3 linked regions of the Homo sapiens genome follow. The protein of the gene in region 3 purifies or fractionates together with the protein of the main gene of each other region. This does not show direct contact. Each region holds a gene or a part of one and is shown on either strand. Other genes may lie near its edges.

Region 1 (7,558 bases), on a different chromosome or scaffold from region 3:
TTCTACTGTTCCTGTTATGGACAGTTTGGACAGAACAGTTTCTAGCTTCAGCCTCATATCGTATGAAGCTGTACATCCACATGTTGTCCTTCTCTTCTTGCCTAAGGCAAAAAAGTCAGACTTCACCAACATATTGTTTAGAACAACATAAATATTTTCCATGGTATTTCTACTATTAAATGTTATAATGGGTAATATAGACTATAAATAACAGCTAAACAGCAGTTTTAGTCATCTTTATATCTCATGTCTAGCACAGTACATGGCACAAAATAGATGTTCTCAGGAACAGGACAAGGTGGGGGAGGCACTCAAGCGCTTAGTGTGTGAAATATAGTGAGATGCCCTCTCTCAGGGTCAGCACCAAGTGTAAGGTCTCCTGATGTGCTCACTTGCTTCACCCTAGTCTTGGCCCCAGATGCTTCTTAGAGTCTTTTTAAAAAAAATTATTTGAAATTGCTTTATTCAAAGAAGCCTCAATTTTTATTATTTATTTATTTATTTTTGAGACAGTCTCGCTCTGTCACCCAGGCTGGAGTGCAGTGTCACAATCTCAGCTCACTGCAACCTCCACCTCCCGGGTTCAGGCAATTCTCCTGCCTCAGTCTCCCGAATAGCTGGGATTATGGGCACCCGCTGCCACGCCCAGCTAATTTTTGTATTTTTAGTAGAGATTGGGTTTCACCATGTTGGCCAGGCTGGTCTCGAACTCCTGACCTCAGGTGATCCACCCATCTCGGCCTCCCAAAGTGCTGGGATTACAGGCCTGAGCCACCACGCCCTGCCAAAGAAGCTAAAATTTGATACAGATTGTTAATGAGCTTTTTCTACACTCTGGGTTGCTAAGTCTTGTTCAGTGATGATGAAAGCGTAAAAACTCTTGCCTCATTTGGAATCAAGGGGAGTAGTCGGCTGCTTTTCTCGTGAAGTGTGTCTCTGTTAGCATTGTACCTTCCAAACCGCATCACCATGAATATTGATGTCTCGAATTTTTTTCTCCAGGCAAACTCTGTTTGCTAGTGCTGACACTGCTTATGTCCTAGCGTATTCAATTATTATGCTGACTACAGACTTGCACAGTCCTCAGGTAAAGCACTTTAATGATTTACATGTTGTATTAGCTAAATAAGTGGCTTTACTTGGGCAATTGGATGTTTTTTAAATGGTTTTTAATTTTTTTTAATTACAGGTAAAAAATAAAATGACGAAAGAGCAGTATATTAAAATGAATCGGGGTATCAATGATAGTAAAGATCTGCCAGAAGAGTATCTCTCAAGCATCTATGAAGAGATAGAAGGCAAGAAAATTGCAATGAAAGAAACAAAAGAGCTAACGATTGCAACCAAATCTACTAAGCAGAGTAAGGTCTAATGGCAAATTATTTCTTTTAGTTCTAATTTTTTAGTGTATCAGAATGCATGATTAAATACTCTGGTGATAAATTTAATGTGCATAGCTGGATATCTGAATAGGAAATGTGATTGAATTAATTATTGTGATTATGTTGGGACTTTTATAATGTCACTGTCTTGCTAGATTTCTGATGAGGAGCAAGAAGGAATTTAAAATTAGTAATCTGAGAACTAAATTACTCCCAAAAAGTGTTCTTTAAAACTTTTCTTTAATTCAGATTGTGTCCGCCTTGATTAGAATTCTATTAGTTATGGCCCCTGGGGAGCTGTCAGTTTCACTGTTTGAGAAGCAGCAAAGGGTAGTGGTTTAGAGTGTGGCTCTAGAGCCACACTGCCTTAGATCAAGTCCCAGCTCCTCTACTTAGTAATTGTATGACCCTGGGCAAGTGACTTACCCCCTCTGCCTCATTTTTCCCATCTGTAAAATGGTAATAATAATATTTGTAATGGACTCACGAGATGGTTGGGAGGATTTAGGAGTTAATCATTGTGCATCTTTTGAAACAGTGTATGGCATGTAGCCAGCCCTCAGTGACTGCTAGCCACACCTATCATGCTCTTACTTTACAGATGTAGCTAGTGAAAAGCAGCGGCGGCTGCTGTACAACTTAGAGATGGAGCAAATGGCTAAAACAGCCAAAGCTCTGATGGAGGCTGTGAGCCATGCCAAAGCCCCGTTTACCAGTGCCACTCACCTGGACCATGTCCGGCCAATGTTCAAAGTGAGTATCCTGAGAACTTAGCAAGCATGTGGCTAAGCCTGATTCTGAAGCTGGCCAGCGAGAAGTACTCTTTCCACGCTAAAACTCTGGATGTTATTGAAATCTTCCTTCCATGATAGCTGGTGTGGACGCCACTATTGGCAGCCTACAGCATCGGACTCCAGAACTGTGATGACACTGAAGTGGCCTCCTTGTGTTTGGAAGGCATCCGATGTGCAATCCGAATCGCCTGCATCTTTGGAATGCAGGTAGGTGTAAGTCAGCAACACTCCAGAGATACTGGTGGGTTGTGCTCTTTTAGATTTGGCAAAACTTAGAAATTATCAGAAATTTTCAGTTAATCAAGACTCTTAGCAAGCTACTTACTTATGCCTACTGACAAGAAATCCGTAGCTTTGTGATGACAGCTCGTTAGGGGCAAAAATGGAGATACGGATTAAAACTGTCTTTAAGAATGGGTAGGCTGGGCACAGTGGCTCACGCCTGTAATCCCAGCACTTTGGGAGGCCAAGGCAGGCAGATCACCTGAAGTTGGGAGTTCGAGACCAGCCTAACCAACATGGAGAAACCCCATCTCTACTAAAAATATAAAATTAGCCGGGTGTGGTGGTACATGCCTATAATCCCAGCTACTCGGGAGGCTGAGGCAGGAGACCGGCTTGAACCCAGGAGGTGGAGGTTGCGGTGAGCCGAGATCGCGCCATTTTACTCCAGCCTGGGTGACAAGAACGAAACTCCATCTCAAAGAAAATAATAATAATAATAATAGGTAGGGTCCAAGCTTCTTGACTGGATTTGACAAAGCAGACTTCGTGTTCATCTGCCTAACTTGCCTGCTTTGGTGCTTAAAAATACTATTTCCTTTTTAACATCAGTTTTTATTATAATTTCGCATATTTCCAACTCTTCCCTGGAGAAACAAGTAGTTCAATGCAATATGAATATGTCTGTAAACCTTTGAAACTTGAAAAGTTCAAGCAAATAAATGAAATGTAATTCTGAAACTGTTACGAAATTAGGAGGTTGACAATCCCATGCATCACTTTGTAAGTCAGAAGTTGCACCCCATTTATTTTTAAAAACTCAATCTTCTGTTCCTATTCATTTTACAGTTAGACATTTTCTTTTATACCAAGACCACAAGCTTTGACGTTAGACCATCTAGGTTTCAAGACCCCACTCTGCCACCTCTCCAACCATGTGACATTGGCTCAGCTAAAGTCTCTCTGAGACACCAATTCATTTCCTCATTTGTAAACTTGAGAAAACAGACCTGCCTGGCAGAATTGTTGCAGATGTCAATTTGTGTGACAGTCTTAGTATTCAACAGACATAGTGGAACATGGGACAGGTGAGTTTGACTGAAGTCAATTAGAAAGGAGAGAGCTGCTTCTCAAACATGTGGCAGTGCATAGATACCTCTGCAAGATGTTCCAAAAGCAAGAGGGCATTAGCATGGAATAACTGTTGTGCTAATGTGCAGAAAGCCAGTCAATGTGCATACAAAAAGTATCAGAGAAGCCCAGTGTGCCAGCCCTGCAGATGTGAGAATGGCCACACTAAGGTTGGAGTCACAGTGTTCTCTCTTGGGTTTCTGTTACAGCTGGAACGAGATGCCTATGTTCAGGCTCTTGCTCGCTTCTCCCTACTCACAGCCAGCTCCAGCATCACAGAAATGAAGCAGAAAAACATCGACACCATTAAGACGCTTATCACAGTGGCTCACACCGATGGCAACTACCTTGGGAATTCCTGGCATGAGGTACGTGTCTCTTTGAATTGCCTTTTCTCAGTTAGGATGACTCCTGGCTTCCTTTTATTCATTGTTGATCTCATTTGGTCAGTTCTGTTTTTCTTGAAGTCAAATCACTGTACCTCATGTATCTGGAAGTCACCCTCTCTGGGGCTGTGAAAGGCGGGGGCGAGTTCAGGCGCACCAGCTCACAGTGAGCACCCTTGCACCCAGCAGCCAGTGTCCCCCATGAAGTGTACTTCTGTTGTTGCAACTTTCTTTCCATATTAGTGCCATTTTTTTTTTTTTTTTTAGTCCTTATGTACCTCTTGGGAGCTTGGGAGCTCCTGTGATCAATGTGTAATTTTAAGACAAAGCCAGGAGCCTGATTAGAAATGGTTGATAGTCACAATGAGCTGTTAGGGAGAGTGCCAGTGAATTCACATGTTTTTAAAACAGTATTCTAAGATTCTCACCCAAGGATATAGTTACTTATGTGTACAACAATGTATTTAAAAGGATATTTGTTGCAGTTTTAGTTGTTCTAGGGAAAAGTTTGGGTTAAAAAGAGCTAGATGTCCCAACAATATAAGAGATTGCTACTTTTTTTAAAAAGTATGGTACAGCATTTTTTAGAATGTTATGTGGCCATTTAAAATAATGTTGTGGAAAAAAAAGACAGGCAGATAGTATGTGCTCTCTGATGGAAGTACACAATACTACCTAAGAAATGTTCTAGCCCCAACTCAAATCTGAATTGATTCAAGCCTATATTGCCAGTTTACAGGAAATACAGTGGACAGAGAAGCATGTTAGATATGAGGGTGCAGCTTGGAAATTCTAGGTGTGACAGACCTGCAGAGCAGATGACCAGGTTTTTCAGCAAAAAAATTGCAAGAAAAATAAGGGAGGAGGGTTACCTATGAATTAAAAGAGATTTCAGAAAAGAAGATAAAAGATGATTTTAAAGACTATTGTGGGAAAATGGTCACAGTAAAATTACAAGTTGTTATAAGAGATTGTGAGGCATTGTCTCTCGTGGCAAAATACACAGAGAATGCAGTTTGAAAGGATAGACCAAAGCATTAACATTCTGTCTGAGAAATAGAATTATGGAAACTGTTTTATTCTTTTTTTTCTTAATTTCTAATTTTTTCTGCCATCTACATGTATTACTTTTTTGTTTAGAGAGAAAACTGTGAAAGAATAGAGATGAGGCTGTGGAGAATGTAAAGGACAGTTTGACATAGAAAATTGCTGTCATCCTTCTTCCCCATGTGGACCACATGGCTCAGATTCAGAGTAAAGGCTCTAGAGCCTGGCAACTGGGGTCTGATTTGGGGCTCCACCTCTTCCTGCCTGGATGGCACAGGCAGGTTACTTAGTCACCGAGTCCCACCTTCTTCATCTCTACAATCTTCACAGGGTGGTTATGAAAATGAAGAGGGCTTGGGACTGTATTTGGCAAGTAATAAGAACTCAATAGTGTTACCTGCTGTCATCTCCGTGGCGTATGGCTTTGCTCCTCTTCACCAGCCTTTCCTCTCTCTGTCACAACTCTGAGTAGTCCATGTTAGAAATAACTGAGTTATGGCTGGGCACAGTGGCTCACACCTGTAATCCCAGAACTTTTGGAGGTTGAGGCAGAAGGATGGCTTGAGGCCAGGAGTTCCAGACCAGCCTGGGCAACATAGCAAGACCCCATATCTTTAAAAAAAAATTATTTTTTTAATTAGCTAGGCATGGTGGTTCATGCCTGTAGTCCCAGCTACTCAGGAGGCTGAGGCAGCAGGATTGCTTGAGCCCAGGAGTTCAAGGCTGTAGTGAGCCTTGATTGCACCACTGTGCTGCAGCCTGGGCAACAGAGCAAGACCTCATCTCTAAAATAAAAAAATATATATTTTGAATTGTGTGCTTTTTAAAATCATTTCCTGCCTTCTAAGGAGCCATAATACGTAGAGAATCAATGAATAGTTGCTTTTTCTTCTAAAACATTTTTTTAGCCTGGGAGGTATTATCAATATGAGGTTCCTGCTGCCAGCCAAGTATATGGCAGAATCTAGAAATGTTAAAAATTAATTAGCTACCTCTGCGGTTGTCAGAAGCCCTGAGAAATCAGCTTGGAACTAATAAGCCCTTGACCTTTCAGTATTGGTGACGTACTTGAGATTCCAGCTGTCCCCAGCTTCTGCAAAAGGGAGGACATTACTAGCTTACTAATAATAATTTAATAGTGTGTGAAGAAATCAGGGGATGATTCTCTTTGGTGGAATTAAGTCTATTTCTCAGTCAAGAAGAAAGCAATTTATAAGTAAAGATACTCGGCAGTGCTCAGTGGTATAGTGGAGTCCTGGACTCTGGGACTGAGTTGTAAGGTCAGCGTAAAAAGCAACACTGAAGTTCAGTCAGAAGTTCCCATGAAAATTCCTTAGGGTTTCCCTGGAGGTCTGTGTGCCATTCCTTGGTAAGTTTCATGTAGCCAGTGTTTCCTCTGACAGAAGTTGGGACCAGTTTCTGTTTCTACAGCTGAGCTTCAGGTAGGAGGGCCCGTGTGCAGATCTGCATTCTCAAGCACCAGAGGCACCCCTCAGGACCAGGAGATCCAGCCTCATCTCCCACTGCATGCCTGATGTAGAGCATATTCTCATTCCTTCAGTTAAACCAATTAACGATTGCCAACAACTTTAAGTGCCAGGGACTTAAGTGTTCAGCAGTGAACAAGACAGAGTTAATGCCCTCTTGGCACCTAAGGCAGGAAACAAACAAATAGATATATGGTATAATGCCAAAAAGTGGTAAGCACTAAGAAAAAAAAAGTATGAGCAGGACATGGTAATGGGAAGGTACGATCTCACAAGAAAGATCTCTTTGAGAGGGACACACATGTCTGAGCTGGGAATTGAAGGAGTGAGCCATGGGGAGACAACATTCCAGGCATAAGGAACAGTGAGTGCCAAGGCCCTGAGGTGGGACAAGAGATGACAAGTTAAAGGAGCAACAGTGAGGCCAATGAGGCTGGTGTCTTGTCGTCTCACGAGGAGGGTGGAAAAAGGAGGTGGGGGTGACTAAATGATGTGCCTATTAAGTGACATGGTGGGAGGAATCCGCCGCCCCAGTCAAATGCTTTTTCTCTCTTTATTGAGAGCTTACTAAATTTGCATAAACATCTATATGGCATAACTCCATTGAACCAACTTTTTTTTAATGACTAACTTAAGATTACAGTGCCCTTTTTCTAGCTGTAAGGTAGGAACTCATTTCTTCATGCCTTCTTTCTCTTAGATCTTGAAATGCATCAGCCAGCTGGAGCTCGCTCAGCTGATAGGAACCGGTGTGAAGACGCGCTACCTGTCTGGATCTGGGCGTGAAAGAGAAGGGAGCCTGAAGGGCCACACATTGGCAGGAGAAGAGTTCATGGGCCTTGGCCTCGGTAAGACACCAGGCCCCACAGCTAACAGTCACGGATTTGCAAGCTAACGGGGATGAAACCCTTCTTGTCTCATCAGGACTGTCCTGTAAACCGTCTCTTCCTTTTGTGCCATCTGACAGTGTTCATGAATGCAAGTGGACGTGCTGCTTTGGCCTCTTAATTGTGATTAAACTGTTGAGTAAAATGTCTATTTTACCAAAGTCAGTAGGGTGCATTACTTTTCTTTCTATACCTATCACTATATTGGGGAGAAAAACCATT
Region 2 (7,850 bases), on a different chromosome or scaffold from region 3:
GATTCTGCCCAGCCTCCCCAGTCCTAGCTTCCTAGCATCCCCACCATCACTGAGAGCTCACCTTGCCTAGGTTTGCCGTGGCAATCTTGGGCTTGTCTTGCAGGATGGCCTGGATACAGATGCGGTAACCATGTAGTGACTCCCCTGGAGAGATACACATTCTCACACCTACTCACATTATTTGGCATCCCAAACCTGAAATCTCCCATTTGTCAGCGGTGAGCCCAGGCCCCAGGTCCACTGACTCCTAACTTCCTCCACACTTTCCAAAAAGTGTTAAGGTTAGCACATTTCTCTGCTGGAAACAGAACCACTGAGTGGTACTGGAAGCAGGAAAAAAAGGAGGAGGCTCCCAAGATGGTCATCCCTCCCGTGCCCCTTTCACCTGGTGTCTTATCCAGCTCTTGCAACATGGTGAACAGACAGTGGTCAAAAAAGAGCTCCAGAGACCCTGCTGCCTTCGCCAGCAGCCCTCGGATGATCCCACGTAGCTCCCGGCTCACCAGGCTGTAGGGATAATCTAAGGCCCATAGGCCTCAATGTGAGTGCTAGGACCAGACACCCATCAGCTCTGAGAACTGTGGTGCTCTCCCTGGGAATGGTGAGTGGAGGCAAAGGCCCCTGCACTGAGGCTGGGATCCTTCCTCTGAGGAGGCCCAGAGGGAGGATCACAGAATGAGGCCCAGAAACATTCACAGTCACGATGATTTGAGACCAGCCCAAATCACCCATGGAAATCAGGACAGTGTGGGGCACTGGGATCTGTTATACCACCCTTTTTGAATTTATTTGAACTTGTCTGAGCTTGAGGAAGCTGGAAGGACTTACCATGAGTATGCTGGCTCAGCGTGGGTTCACTTAGAGGAGCTTGTAGCTTGTAGTTGAGATAGCTGGCCAGGTCCTTCAACCATATGGATGGGTTTCCAGAGAACACACTCTGGCTCTTGTCCAGTTCCTTCTGCAGGTCTGCCACATCCAGCTGCCAGGGACAATCCCCCAACCCCCCACCATGGCGAGTTGTGAGTGAGGGAGTAAAGAAATGGGGTAGGGGTGGGAAAATGGTTGAACTAGGTGGCAGTAGGAAGAAGGGATTCCATTTTTAAGCATAAGAACATGGAATGCTGCAATTCTGCTGTACCTACATCTTTAAGAATGGAACAGGACAGCTGAAAATGCTGATCTCAGGCCCTATCCTCTCAGGCCCTCCACATGTTCAAGAGGAAAACAGAGGGCCAGGCGCGGTGGCTCACGCCTGTAATCCCAGCACTTTGGGAGGCCAAGGTGGGCGGATCACCTGAGGTCAGGAGTTCAAGACCAGCCTGGCCAACGTAGTGAAACCCCATCTCTACTAAAAATACAAAAATTAGCCAGGCGTGGTGGCAGACGCCTGTAATCCCAGCTGCTTGGGAGGCTGAGGCAGGAGACAGAGGTTGCAGTGAGCTGAGATCACACCACTGCACACCAGCCTGGGCGACAGAGGGAGACTCTAACTCAAAAAAAAAAAAAAAAAAAGAGGAAAACAGAGGACAAGACAGAAAATGAAAGATCAGTATTTCCATAGGACAGAGAATCATAACCAGTTTCTCCATCTCCTCCCTGGTGTTCCTGGGTCTTCAAGGCTTTCCTCTTACCAATCCATGTTTCCCTATAAATTTTCCATTTCCTTTCTATTCTAAGTGCAGGCATTCTGTTCCCCTGGGGTTTCCATCTTTTCCTGAACTCCTCTCAACCCTTAAAGTGTTTCAAATCCCATAGGATCTCAGCTGCCCATCCACCTCCCCCTCCTCTCATCTTCTCTAAATCTCAAGCCCCCATTCTTTCTGCGTCTCATGTCTAGGCACACTCACAGCTTTCAGTGCTTCCTCCAGGCTGCGGAAGCGGCCCTGCTTCTGGTTTTGGTTGGGAGGAGTTGCCACCTTCTTTGGCTGCTTCTTGTTCCCTGGTTTCTTAGGTTCCACAGCAGGGGGTGGGACCTGCTCCTTATTCTGCCGCTTCATGATATTCTCAAAGCCCCGCTCATAAAGGGTGCTTGTGGTCTGGATTGCAGCTGGGGTGAAGATAGGTAGAGAAAGGCAGGCCACCCTTGAGTCCCCAAGGCCTCACCTATCAGTGGTCCCTTTCCCCACACTGCCACCTAATTCATCTCCAGGGAAGAGCCTGTCTCAAAGCCCCTTCCTCTTGGACTGCTTAAGGAGCAGGGCAGGCTGTTCTCCTGGTAGCTTCTTTCATTACAGCTCTTGAGTCTATGGGCTCTTTCATAAAGATGGGGCAGTTCTTCATTAGACAAATCAGAGTATGTAGGAACAAGCAGAGAGGTTGGATATAGAGGTTTGCCTTATTCAGTGAGTGGCTACTAGTCTGGGAAGACAAGCTTTTTCCATCTTGGTCCTACCCTAACGCCTCTTGGTTCCGACATGACAACTCTATAATCAACAAGTGGCAATCTTTCTCCACTCCTCAGTGGAAGAACCAGGTGTCACTTATAATTCCTGGTGAGTGTTGAGTGTGTGGCGGTCATTTCTCCCACTGCTGGGCCTCCTGTCCCTTCCTCCATGACCTGCTGGTTACTTAAAGAGGGGGCACCGTGTATAATGATCCACAGTACCTCTTCAAAGCTCAGACACCTGCCCAGAGAGACCAGCTAGGGCCCTGGGCAGCTGGGAGAGTGTGTGCAGTGAACTGAGAGTCTGAGGACCGGAATCCTAGCCCCTCTGACACATGACCCTGGCCAAGGTATCCAACTTCACTGGGCCTCAGTTTACTCATCTGGGAGGTGAGGACCGCAACCTTCCCTGGAGCTGTCTGCCTCCCGTGAGGCTCCAAAGAGACAACGCAAGCGTGGCGCTCGGGGATGTGCCTGCGAGCTCGCGCCCAGGTTCTGGGAGCCGCTCGCTGCGACCCTGCCGGACAGGCCTGGGGTAGGCGGCGGGGCAGGGCGGGTACTCACGGGTCAGGTCGTATTTCCACACTCCGTTTGCTTCCCCGAGCGCCCTGCGGTTCCTGCCGCCTCCTCGGCCGCCGGCGCCGGCGCCGACCCCAGGCCGCCGACCCTTCTTCACTACCTCCCACCGCCCCACGCCCGCCGTCTTGGTCGCCATGGCTCGCAGCCCTCCCTCCTCGGCCACTTCCCCGGCTTTCCGGTCCGGCGCGAGCGCGCCGCACTCTGCCACGTCTCCTCGCAGGACCGCGCGCCCGGCGCCCGGCGCCCGCCGCAAGGCAGCCTGGGACTTGTAGTCCCTCTCCTGGGCCGGGCTCTCCTGAGCGAAGAGCATCGGGAAGAGGCTTCCGCGGCAGCCTGCGGCCCCCGCCCAGGCGAAGAGGCCGGGAGGAGAGGAGATTCCCTTCTGAGAACGTTCATTGAGCGTCGATGTGAAGGCCACGGCATTGAGAGACTTGGTAGAACTGTTTCTGTTTTTCTTTCCTTTATTGATCAATTGATTGATTGATTGCCAGGGCCGCGCTCTGTCGCCCAGACTGGAGTGCAGTAGCGCGATCTCAGCTCACTGTAACTTCCGCCACCCAGGTTCAAGCGACTCTCGTGCCTCAGCGTCCCGAGTAGCAGGGACTACAGGCTCCCGCTGCCAAGCCCAGCTAATTTTTGTATTTTTAGTAGAGACGGGGTTTCGCCATGTTGGCTAGGCTGGTCTCGAACTCCTGACCTAAAGTGACCCACCCCACCCCCACCCCTCAGCCTCCCAAAGTGCTGGGATTACAGGCGTGAGCCACGGCGCCCGGCCACTGTTTTTCTTTCCTTTCTCGTAGAGCTGGAAGGATGGAAGGGAAGTAGTGCTCCTCATATCTAGGGAGAGATTGAAGATTAAATGCTTCCTTCCTTCTAGGAAAGTGCTGGCTTTACTGTTGCTAGTGATTAAACCTCGGGTTTAATGGGCTATACAAATCTATTGCCAAAGAACAAGGAAGAGGATGGGGGCTTGAGGAAAGGGCAGAGTGTTGGGGAGCTGGGGTAGGAGGTGGAGAATGGAGAATAATTTTTTTTTTTTTTTTTGAGACAGGATCTTGCTTTGTCGCCCAGGCTGGAGTTCAGTGGCGCGATCACGACTCACTGCAGCCTCAACTTCTAGGGCTCAGGTGATCCCCCACCACGGATCACCTGACCCACCACCACCCCCGGCTAATCTTTGGTATTTTTTGTAGAGACTGGGTTTTGCTGTGTTGCCCAGGCTGATCTCAAACTCCTGGGCTCAGTGATCCACCCTCTTCAGCCTCCCAAAGTGCTGGGATTACAGGAGTGAGCCACCGCTCCTGGCCTCTGAGTTCTTCTCATGGGAGGCTGAGAAAAGTCTGGGGGTCTGGGACAGCCAGGGCCGGGTTTCCCCTTCCAGGCAATGAGAAAGAACAGGCTCTGCCTCCCACCATAAGAGTCAATCCCAAGTTCCAGATGTGTCAGGGAAGCGATGGAGAGCCCCAGACTTGAGGCATCTGCAGACAGGTTCCTGCTCAGACATCCACGTGGAGGGTGTTAGTATCCTGGGAGCCTTCAGAACCTTGAAGCATGCCAGCAGAGGAGAATGAGGGAAGATAAAATCAAAGTGACTTATCACAATTAAGGAAATGTGCTATTTCATGTACAACTGTGTGTGAGGATGAGATTCCTACCTGCCATACTGAGGTATTATGATAAGAACTAAGAGAGTCCAAATTCCTACAGGATGAACAGCTGAGGGAGCGATGCATTCCTTAGGAAGGAGTTTAGCTTCCCGAAGGAGACGGCAGCTGAGATAGGTTCTGAGAAATAGCATTTTCATTGGTTCCCCGGGCGCCGTGGCTCACGCCTGTAATCCCAGCACTTCGGGAGGCCGAGGTGGGTATCACCTGAGGTCAGGAGTTCGAAACCAGTCAGGCCAACATGGTGAAACCCCATCTCTACTAAATACAAAAAAGTAGCCAGGTATGATGGCGCAGGCCTATAATCTCAGCTACTTGGGAGGCTGAGGCAGGAGAATCGCTTGAACCTTGGAGGCGGAGGTTGCAGTGAGCCGAGATTGTGCCACTGCACTCCAACCTGGGCAACAAGAGCTAAACTCCGTCTCAAAAAACCCAAAACAACAACAACAACAAAAAACAAAATTGAATGTTCACTGGCTGAGGGTTAGGGTGGGTGGAGAGAAAATGCCAGTTGTGTGGATCTGTTGATGTAAAACAAAGGCCTAGAGGGTGGTAAACTGGAAGCAGTTCAATGGGACAGTGCTTGATGGGACTTTGGAGGTGATGAGGTTTGATATAGTTTGGATTTTTGTCCCTGCCCAAGTCTCATGTTGAATTGTAATCCCCAGCGCTGGCAGTTGGGCCTGGTGGGAAGTGTTTGGATCATGGTGGTGGATCCCTCATGGTGGATCCCAGTTCTCATGAGATCTGGTCATTTAAAAGTGTGTGGCACCTCCCCACCACCTCTCTCTCTCGCTCGCTTGCTCGCTCCTGCTTTTACCATGTGATGTGCCTGCTCCCCCTTTGCCTTCCGCCATGATTGTAAGCTTCCTGAGGCTTCCCTAGAAGCAGATGTCAGCATTATGCTTCCTATACAGTCTGCAGAACTGTGAGCCAATTAAACTTCTTTTCTTATAAATTACCCAGTCTAGATGTTTCTTTATAGCAATGCAACAATAGCCTCTTATGAGTTTGGAAAGGGATCTGAGCCCATATGCCAAGGAACTTGCCTGCCAAATCTGGACTTTATCCTTCAGGCCCTGGGAGACCAGTGAGAGGGTGGCATAATCCACTCTTTTGGAAGGGTAAATGTGGCTGTGTGAAGTGTTGGTAGGGGAAGGCAGGGGGTGGGAGATGAGCATATCTTGCTGCCTCCTTCTACCTGTCCTCCAGCCCCCTTAGGCCTGACCATGGCTGACTTTGCATCCGGTAGCTCTGAGATACAGTGCCTTTGCCAAGGACCATATTTGAACTGATCATTAATCAATTCATTTTGCAGATCATTGGTTTAGGTGTACTCAGGAGACCAACAACAATATCTTCTCTTTGTTTGACCCCTCCTGTGTCACATGTATGATCACAGAAGAGACCATGTTTTTGGAAGAGAAACAGAACTGGCTTTCCATTGAGGCAAATGAGGGGGCTGCCCCATGGTGGAGACACACAGAAGGGTGGGAGAGGGACTCTATCTTTCATTGGAATAGTCTAGTAAGTTACCAGTTCTAACTTGGCATCTAGGACATATAAATCATGCATTTACTTATCCAGCAACCTTTTCTAAGCACCTTCTCTGTGTCAGGCCCTGTGCTAGGTGGAGCTGGAAGATATAGCTCACTTGCTTGTAAGGAACTTGAAGTCTGTGTGGGGGACAAATGTATAAACAGAAAATTACAGTTCACCATCTTAGTGTTCCAGAGGAAAGAAGCACTTAGTATGAGGTACCAGGAAGAGGTGGGGAGAAGGGAGTGGCTTTACATCCTTAAGTTCTGGGTGTTTGAAGAGCAGCCTTAGACACTAGCCACGGAGGTGGGCTTGGGTAGGCCCCGCCGTGGGGTTTGAAGACCCAAAAGATGTTGGGTCAAGGAGGACATGGGTGTCTAGTGTGGGAGCAAGCAGAAGGGTGAGCTCACCGAAGCACTGTTTTACCCACTGTACTACGTTTCTATTGCTGCTAAAACAAATTGCCACAAACTTAGTGGCTTAAAACAAGGGCGTTATCTTCCAGTTCTGGAGGGCAGGAGTCTAACTCAGGTCTCCCTGGGCTAGAATCGAGGTGTCAGCAGGGCTGGGTTCCTTTCTGGAGGCTTTGGGGGAGCATCCATTTCCTTGCCTTGCCCAGCTTCTAGAGGCCACCTGCATTCCTGAGTTCATGGCTCCCTTCTGTCTTCAAAGCCAACAACAGTGGGTGAGTCACTCTCACATTGTTTCACTTTGACCTCTTCTTTTATTTTTCTGAGACAGGATCTTGCTCTGTTGCCCAGGCTGAAGTGCAGTGACATGATTATGGCTCACTGCACCCTTGACCTCCAGGGCTCAAATGATCCTTCCATCTCAGCCTCCCAAGTAGCTGGGACTACAGGCATGTAGTACCATGCTCGGCTAATTTTTCTATTTTTTGTAAAGATGGGGTCTCGCTGTTGTCCAGGCTAGTCTCCAACTCCTGCGCTCAAGTGATCCTCCTGCCTTGGCCTCCCAAAATGGTGGGATTACAGACATGAGCCACCACACCCTGCCCACTCTGACCCTTTCTGCCTCCTGCTTCCACTCTTATAAACGTTTGCGATGACATTGGACCCACCTGGATAAACCAGGACACTCTCCCTATTTTAAGGTCAGCAGATTAACTTCCTGAATTCCATCTGCAACTTTTTTTTCTTTTTTTTTTTTTTTTGAGACAGGGTTTCAGTCTGTTGCCCAGGCTGGGGTACAGTGGAGCAATCATGGCTCACTGCAGCCTTAACAACAACTGGGCTCAAGTGATCCTTCTGCTTCAGCCTCCTGAGTAGCTGGGACTACAGGCACGTGCCACAACGCCCTTCAAATTTTATTTTTTGTAGAGATGGTGTTTCCCTATGTTGCTCAGGGAAGTCTTGAACTCCTGGGCTCAAGTGATCCTCCCGCTTTGGCCTCCAAAAGTGCTGGGATTACAGGCGTGAGCCACCGCACCTGGCCCACAGGCAGCTTAATTCCCTTTTGCCATGTAACCCACATATTCACAGCTTCTGGGGATTGTGATGTGGACATTGGGGGAGGCACTGTTCTGCCTCCCACACCCACTTTACCTTCAGGGTGAGGTCTCGGCCTGGCCTATCCTTTCATGGTATCTACCTGTAATCATGGGGAAAAGCCTTTAAAAATTAGGCAAGGGAATTAAAATCATCACGATAAGTAAAAGCAGGCAAGGA
Region 3 (7,558 bases):
AAAATGAACACACATAAAAGGAGGGAGTCACGAAAATGAGACTGTGACACGGGGTTGTGAAGTTACAGCTACTGTCAGTGAACAGCAGGAAAATGGTTTTTTGGTTTGTTTGTGTTTTTGAGATGGAATGTAGCTCTGTTGCCCAAGTTAGAGCACAATGGCACGATCTCGGCTCACAGCAACCTCCATTTCCCAGATTCAAGCGATTCTCCTGCCTCAGCCTCCCAAGTAGTGAGGACTACAGGCGCCACCACCACGCCTGGCTAATTCTGTATTTTTAATAGAAATGGGGTTTCACCATGTTGGTCAGTTCAGTCTCGAACTCCTGACCTCAAGTGATCTGCCTGTCTCGGCCTCCCAAAGTGCTAGAATTACAAGCATGAGCCACTGCACCTGGTCAGGAGAACAGTCTTGGTGACTCAGTTCTCAAGCTTAATTCTCCTTTTGGCATGGTGAGTTTGGGGTCCTGAGATTCTATTTTTCTTTCACAATCGGAATCATCTGCTCCTGGCTGGTTACTTGGAAGGGGGGAAGCAGGACAGAGAATAAAGCAGCATGCCTGCCTGGCAACCACTACAGTCTGCATTTGGGGGCTGCAGCCTCATGGCCATGGTGCGGACCTTCCCAAACCACACCATCACACTACGTTGGGCACATCAGTGATTTGAGTTGAAGTGTGTCATTGTGTTTGAATGGTTCTGCTGCCTTTCAATCCACTGTTGAGCAGGGGGCACTCTAGTCTAGTGATGGAGTCCCTGCCCAATGAGCACTGCTTCAAAATGAGGATATGGGGCATTGATAAGTGGCCTGACTACTTGAAGAAGCCAATTCCTCCTCATCTTGTCATATCCTGTTCTAGAGCCCACATGGCCAGTACTGGTAAGTTTCAGATGAGGAGGCTGCCCCACTTCTAGGCCCAGGAGGTTTGGCAAAGACAGGAAGTTGTCTTGATTTTTTTTCATGGTTTTTCCAGTTCAGTCCTCTTTTTTGGCAGAGGGTCTTGGTAATTATCAGAGGCTCTTCCTGATGGCAAGAGAGGAGTTGGAGGGGTTCTTTCAGATCACTGGTTTATTGGAAAAAAGCCTTGGGTTGAGGAATCAGGAAGGAAAATTGTACCATTATTCATCCTCAGACGGACCCCTAGCTGAGCATAATGACCTGGCAGCCACCCTGGGAAACACAGATGGATGACAGAGTTAGCACTCTGGGCCTTCTCCAGTGTCTGTGACTGCCTGATGGTGCTTCCCAAGCCAGCAGTGACTCTGTCCCCACCCTGCCTTCTGTGCACACTCATGTTCAGCTCTCTCATCAGGACCTGGTGAGTGGTCAGGGCTTCAGAGCAGCTCTAACATGGACCCATACTGCCAAGCCAGCAATGTTGCCTTCTGGCCAGTGTTGATCAGGGTGGATGAAAGTCCCAGGCAAAGCTAGATCAGGGCAGAGTCCTGCGTGGGGCAGGGAGAACAGGCAAGCCGAGGTGTCTGGTGCTGTGTGTGTGTGCGCCGGCCCCCATATGGTCCACATGGAAACAGTGCGTGGACAGAGCTGGGTACCACTTCCCAGGGCTTTCTGTGCAGCCTGTGGACACATGAAGTGAATTCAAAATGCATATTCAGATTGGGTAGTGCCATGGATATAACATGCATTGTCTTTTCCTTGTAGAAAGGTTGCATGAAGAGAAAGGAAGCAAATTGCCTTTTGCATTAGGCCATATAAAGTGTTCCCCAGCATCCATTTGCCTGAATTTTCTTTCTCTAGAAGCAACACATCATGGAAGCATAGGGATTTACATTTTAAGGCTTAAAAAAAAAGTTCTTCCAAATTAAGGTCATGTCAGACACTAGGTACCTTAAGTTCTTCCCACCCCTTTTCCCATGACTATGACAGGAAGCCCATCCTGTACCCAATCCTCTGTTGCAGCAGAGGAGAGAACAGCATTTATTAGCAACAGCTCAAGCCAGGGTTAGGGGATTCATGCACAGAATAAACTAGATTAACTTGTGCATTAGGTAAGCATGCACACCACCAAATTACCACTCTTCCCTCTAAATTTGTAGCACTGTCTCTACCGTTCACTCAGCAGTTAATCAATCACTTGTAGACTCGTCATTTCTTTCATGCTGTTTCCTCAGTTTCTAACACTGTCTTGTATTCTTATTTAATTACTCAACATGATTTAACTTTTGTAAATATTTGGCCTATCTATACAAATGGACTGTAGGCTGTTCAAGGGGGAGATTCTTGATGTCGCAGCTCATTTAATGCAGCCTATTAAGAGCCTATGTTCTTCTTCCCTTGGCAAAAGTCACTTGCTGTTGTTCAGGTATTTTTGTAGTTGAACTCTCCTGTAGTAGATCCTAGAAACCCTCCTGGAGAAGGTACCTGAATTATGAGTCAGGTGCAACCTGAGTGAGGAAGGACTTGCTCATACATTGTGTTTGTGCTCTGAAAGTTAGAAGATATCCCTGTATAATGGGGAGGAAGAGGTCCCAAAAGATAGGAACCTGGAAACAGCGAAGAAAGAGAATTGCTACTGGCTGTATATATTAAATACATAGAAAGTTAAAGCAAGATGGACTCCAGGATCAGGTGCCTTTAGATGAACAGGTAAAAATCCAGGCATCTCCCATGGGTAAACCTTTCCTGGAAACTGACCAAACCGGGAAGGGAAAAATGGGTTGACCTGACTTACAGGAGCTGGGGCTGCAGACACCTCTAAGAGACATGAAGGTGCTCGCAGTGACCTCACACCATCTGAATGTCTTTGGAGACGGGAGGATAGCGTGTCCTTGACTGGTGCCATACCTAATACTGAAAAGGTTTTGAGCATAACTTCAATGCAACACACAGAAAATGTGCAATGGGGGCACCCCCCCAGAGAAAAGACTCAAGATAAAGTTCTGAAAGAGGAAGAGAATCCCTGCAAATGTAGAGTGGTGCTGAAGTGAATGCAGGATCATAGGAAAAATAGAGTCTTGTCCAGGTGTGGTATCTCATGCCTGTAATCCTAGCACTTTGGGAGGCCGAGGCAGTAGTACCGCATGAAGCCAAGAGTTGGGCAACAAAGTGAGACTCTGTCTCTATAAAAAATTTTTAAGAATTAGCTGGGCATGGTAGCATGCACTTGTAGTCCCAGCTACTTGGGACTTGGCTGAGAGAAGAGGATTGCTTGAGCCCAGGAGTTTGAGGCTGTAGTGAGCTATGATCATGCCACTGCACTCCAGCCTGGGTGACAGAGCAAGACCCTGTCTCTAAAAGAAAAAGTGTATTATATACAAGTATATATAATGTACATATGTAAAGTAAGTTTTTTTAACCAAAGAAAAATAGCGTCTTAGTGTGTAAAGGGGAATTTGAGCTCTGTAACCACTGGATTTTGTACCTGGAAACAGAGACAAAAGGGGTAGAGTGACTTGCCTCAAATCCATCAGAGGCACAGCTAGGTTTAGAATGATTCATACATTCATACACTCATTCAGAAACATCTGTTGAACACTTATGGGGCCCCAGGCACAGTTCTAGTCCTGGATCCAGGTTTCCAGACTCCTAGACCAGTGCTCTACCCATCATGAGGCCTCCTAACCTGATCCAAATCTGAAAGGCATGTTTGGCATCAAACTCTGACATGGGCTCACTGATCCCTAAGATAAGAATCCAAGCTCACTCCCAGATCCAAAAGAAGAAGATGAGTCAAGGAGGGAGTCGCAGAACTAGTTTTACTGATTCAATTCCAGATACAAATACAACTTAGCATTTTAAAAGTTTATGACTCTATGTTTGCGTTGGCCTTTACCCGAGACGGGTACTTGGAATGCAAACTTTACAAACTGGAAATGAGTTTCTGTACCTTTTGGAAAGAAACAGTAGAGAGAAGTTGGGGCATGGGGATAGGCCAGGTAGCTGGTAGGACGGGGAGTGTGAGAGGAAAGGAAGCCATTAGGAAAAGAAGGGTGTCGTTGACAGGAAAAGGGATTTGCTAGGCTGAAAGAAGACTGAAGGTGGTTCTCTAGTATTATCTGGTAGAAGACAATACCTGTCCCACTGGGCATGGAATGAATTCGTGGAACGTTAGCTTAAGACAGGCCCCATTTCAGAAGGTTCTGCTGTCCCTGGGAAAGAACAACGAATGCGAGAAACATCCTGGCTTCACTGCCTGGGGCCTGGGAATCCTTGCCCATGCTAATCACAGCAATAGCTGATGCTTACAGAGTGCTGTATACTCTTGGCACTGTTTATCTCACTAATAACCCTGTGGGATAGTGAAGGAAGGTGTTACTACACCTATTTAGCAGATGAGGCAACTGAGGTTCAGGAAGATTCATGGGCTGGCCTAGATCACAGAGCTATCTGTAGGAGAGCCAGGCCTGAAACAGTCCTCTTCTAACTGCAAGTTGGTCATTTTTCCTGCCATGCTGTGCTGCTTTACCCGAGGATGCGGAAGGAATCTGGGTTTAAATCTGTTTGGAGGAAAGATTCACATCAAGAACATTTTGCCTGGCTCCTGGATGTGAATGCAGATGAAAAGATGCTAAGTGGGGCCATTGCAATGTGATCTTATTTCCTTGGCTCAGTGGCCTCATTCGGTTGGCTCAGGATGCACGAAGATTTTCCAGGGTTGTGTTTCTAGTCTTACCTGGTTCAAGTTTTCTCCATCACAAAGAATAGTCATTAATGATGACAAGAGTGTTTTCAATACGGGGAAACTGCCAGAGAAACAAGGAAGAAATTAGTGTTAAAACTCCACTAGGTGTTCTTGGTACCTTCGATCCCAGTGAGTATCCTGTGAGTCTGGGCCGTTCTGTAACTTCTTGGGGAGTCCCAGTGCCCTCAGGTTACAAAAGAAATGGGTCAAGATGTGGATGGGCCCTGATTACATATTTTCTCAGGGGATGCTGCCAACATGTGGGAATGTGAGTGACAGTACCTGGTCTTGCCTTTCAGAGCTGCCAACTTCAGGAACTTTACCTTCATCCAGCTGAATGGAGAATTTTCTCGGGGAAAGGGACTTGATGTTGGAGCCCGCTTCTGGAAGGGAAGCAACGTCCTTCTCTTTTTCTGTGATGTGGACATCTACTTCACATCTGAATTCCTCAATACGTGTAGGCTGAATACACAGCCAGGTATGGATCATCTCTCTGTCACGCTCAGGTGGCCCCCAGCCCTCTCGGGCCCATGTGTCGTCCTCTTGATGGGTCAGTCACTCTGATGTCCTGCTTCTGAATCAGCCTGTTTTACTTCAATAGCAAAGAAAAGGAAAACCATCTGTATTAGTCTGTTCTCACGCGGCTAATAAAGACACACCTGAGACTGGGTAATTTATAAAGGAAAGAGGTTTAATGGACTCATAGTTCTGCATGGCTGGGGAGGCCTCACAATCATGGAAGAAGGTGAAGGAGGAGCAAAGGGAAGTCTATCATGGCAGCAGGCGAGACAGTGTGTGTAAGGGAACTCCCATGTACAAAACCATCAAATCTCTTGAGACTTATTTACTATCATGAGTACAGCATGGGAAAACCTGTCCCCATCATTCAGTTACCTCCCACCAGGTCCCTTCCAGGATATCTGGGGATTATGGGAGCTACAATTCAAGATGAGATTTGGGTGGGGACACAGCCAAACCACGTCACCATCTGGTTTGACTTCTCCTTTGAGGCCACATCATGGGCCTGTCAGCCACCATAATTCTGGGACTCTTTTCCCAAGTTCATGTCCATAACCCCTCTTCCGTCTGCAACTGGGAGGTCAGCTTTCATGAACATTCCCAGGAGAAAGCGAGGTGGGGAGGAGGTGGAGCTGGAAAACTGCCAACCCTAAAGAGAAAGGAGTACCTTTGGGCAGTTACCTAGGGTAGAAGAGCTATTCGCACAAAGAACCCACAGTACTAAAATGACTTTCACAGACTCCACTCATAGGCAAGGCTGCTATTGAGCTGATGAACACTGGCACAGCCATGCCAGTTGCTAAAATACAGAAATTCTTTTGTGTAAATTGATAAAGAGCAACCACCCTGGACACTCTAAGTCTAGTCCAACTGCCCAAAGTCACCCTGACCCAAAGTCAACCATTTAAGATGATCCCATGAGCCAGCAAGTAAAGGGTTAATGTTTGGCGGGGCTGGGGCACCAGGACTCTCTTTCACACCCCCTCCCAAGGCGTGATGCCCAGTGCTTGGTCATGGTCTGTCAGTATTCCAAATATCATTCCTGCGCTGGGAGATCAGAAATATTTGCAGATATGACTGTCTGGTCCACTTGGTGCTGCACTTCTAAGACCCATTTTAGAGTTGAGTCAAGGGAAAAGGAAAAGTGGCTGCAGGCCGGGCGCAGTGGCTCATGCCTGTAATCCCAGCACTTTGGGAGGCCGAGGCGGGTGGATCATTTGAGATCAGGAGTTTGAGACCAGCCTGACCAACATGGTGAAACCCCATCTCTACTAAAATAAAAAAATTGGCCGGGTGTGGTGGCGGGCACCTGTAATCTCAGCTACTCAAGAGGCTGAGGCAGTAGAATCACTTGAACCCAGGAGGCAGAGATTGCAATGAGCCAAGATTGTGCCACTCTATTGCAGCCTGGGTGACAGTGAGACTGCCTCTCAAAGAAAAAAAAAGTGGGTGCAAATATCTGGGGTGTTTCAGAGGGCCAAATGTCAAGGAACAAACCTACTACTTGGATCTGTCACTTTAAGTGAATGTTTGTTTTCTGGTTTGTAGGGAAGAAGGTATTTTATCCAGTTCTTTTCAGTCAGTACAATCCTGGCATAATATACGGCCACCATGATGCAGTCCCTCCCTTGGAACAGCAGCTGGTGAGTAATTACCCTGCAGATGGCTCTGTGTGGCTCTGTTTAGTGTCTGTCATTACCAGGGGTACCTGACCATGAGCAAAGGTGAGTAGAAATCTGTGCAATGATTCCCTTAGTAGTTTTTACGTTTGGCAGATGTGCTGGCCTCTGCTCCCGGCGCCTCGTTGATTAAAAGTGCTTGCAATATTTAAAGTGGAAAATAAATGGAAGCAGTACTTTACAGAGAGGTAATTTCACACCTTCATAGTTTCCATCACTGGTTTTTGGAAACTGGTATTGTTGCATTATGGATGCAGTACAGTTTCTCTTGATTTTTGCAAAATCCTACAAGGTAACAAAGGTGAGATTTATGTTCCCATTTGACAGAAATCAGAATGGGGTGGCTCACCCCAGAGAGGGCCAGAGCAATTCCCTGGACCTTGCAGGCAAATAAGGTCTTTGTGAATTTGAAGTGGAAACTCCCAGTGTGCTCCCAGTGCCCTTCCCGTCATGCCACCGTTCCCTTCCCATCATGCCACTGTTCCCACACATCACAGTGTTTGGGTAGACGTTAGCATTAAAGGTGTCACTGGCAAGGTGGCTCTCAAAGGAATATTGGAAGGACTTCTCTGCTAAGATCCTGGCTGCACAGGTGATGGATAGTGGATGCACACAGCCCCCAAGGGTCCCTGTAGGGTGAGATGTCTCTGTTGTCACAGGCAGTTAGTCCACTTTGCAGAGAAGCAATGCAAGCAGCAGGAGGAAAGGCAAGCCAGAA

The links.
Region 1: the proteins of CSGALNACT1 (region 3) and ARFGEF2 purify together in Homo sapiens (affinity purification with mass spectrometry; 3 studies listed by BioGRID and IntAct, with this or other methods). This does not show direct contact.
Region 2: the proteins of CSGALNACT1 (region 3) and TMEM214 purify together in Homo sapiens (affinity purification with mass spectrometry; 3 studies listed by BioGRID and IntAct, with this or other methods). This does not show direct contact.

The regions. Positions count from the first base shown.
Region 1 is NC_000020.11:48,987,302-48,994,859, forward strand, and holds part of ARFGEF2 (brefeldin A-inhibited guanine nucleotide-exchange protein 2), read left to right. Parts: intron 1-1,002; coding exon 1,003-1,087; intron 1,088-1,189; coding exon 1,190-1,361; intron 1,362-1,983; coding exon 1,984-2,135; intron 2,136-2,254; coding exon 2,255-2,383; intron 2,384-3,738; coding exon 3,739-3,897; intron 3,898-7,149; coding exon 7,150-7,297; intron 7,298-7,558. UniProt on the Homo sapiens protein: Promotes guanine-nucleotide exchange on ARF1 and ARF3 and to a lower extent on ARF5 and ARF6. Promotes the activation of ARF1/ARF5/ARF6 through replacement of GDP with GTP. Involved in the regulation of Golgi vesicular transport.
Region 2 is NC_000002.12:27,028,264-27,036,113, reverse strand, and holds the start of TMEM214 (transmembrane protein 214), read right to left. Parts: upstream 3,150-7,850; 5' UTR 3,099-3,149; coding exon 2,948-3,098; intron 2,048-2,947; coding exon 1,848-2,047; intron 980-1,847; coding exon 829-979; intron 521-828; coding exon 386-520; intron 145-385; coding exon 62-144; intron 1-61. UniProt on the Homo sapiens protein: Critical mediator, in cooperation with CASP4, of endoplasmic reticulum-stress induced apoptosis. Required or the activation of CASP4 following endoplasmic reticulum stress.
Region 3 is NC_000008.11:19,417,902-19,425,459, reverse strand, and holds part of CSGALNACT1 (chondroitin sulfate N-acetylgalactosaminyltransferase 1), read left to right. Parts: intron 1-4,941; coding exon 4,942-5,120; intron 5,121-6,709; coding exon 6,710-6,804; intron 6,805-7,558. UniProt on the Homo sapiens protein: Transfers 1,4-N-acetylgalactosamine (GalNAc) from UDP-GalNAc to the non-reducing end of glucuronic acid (GlcUA). Required for addition of the first GalNAc to the core tetrasaccharide linker and for elongation of chondroitin chains.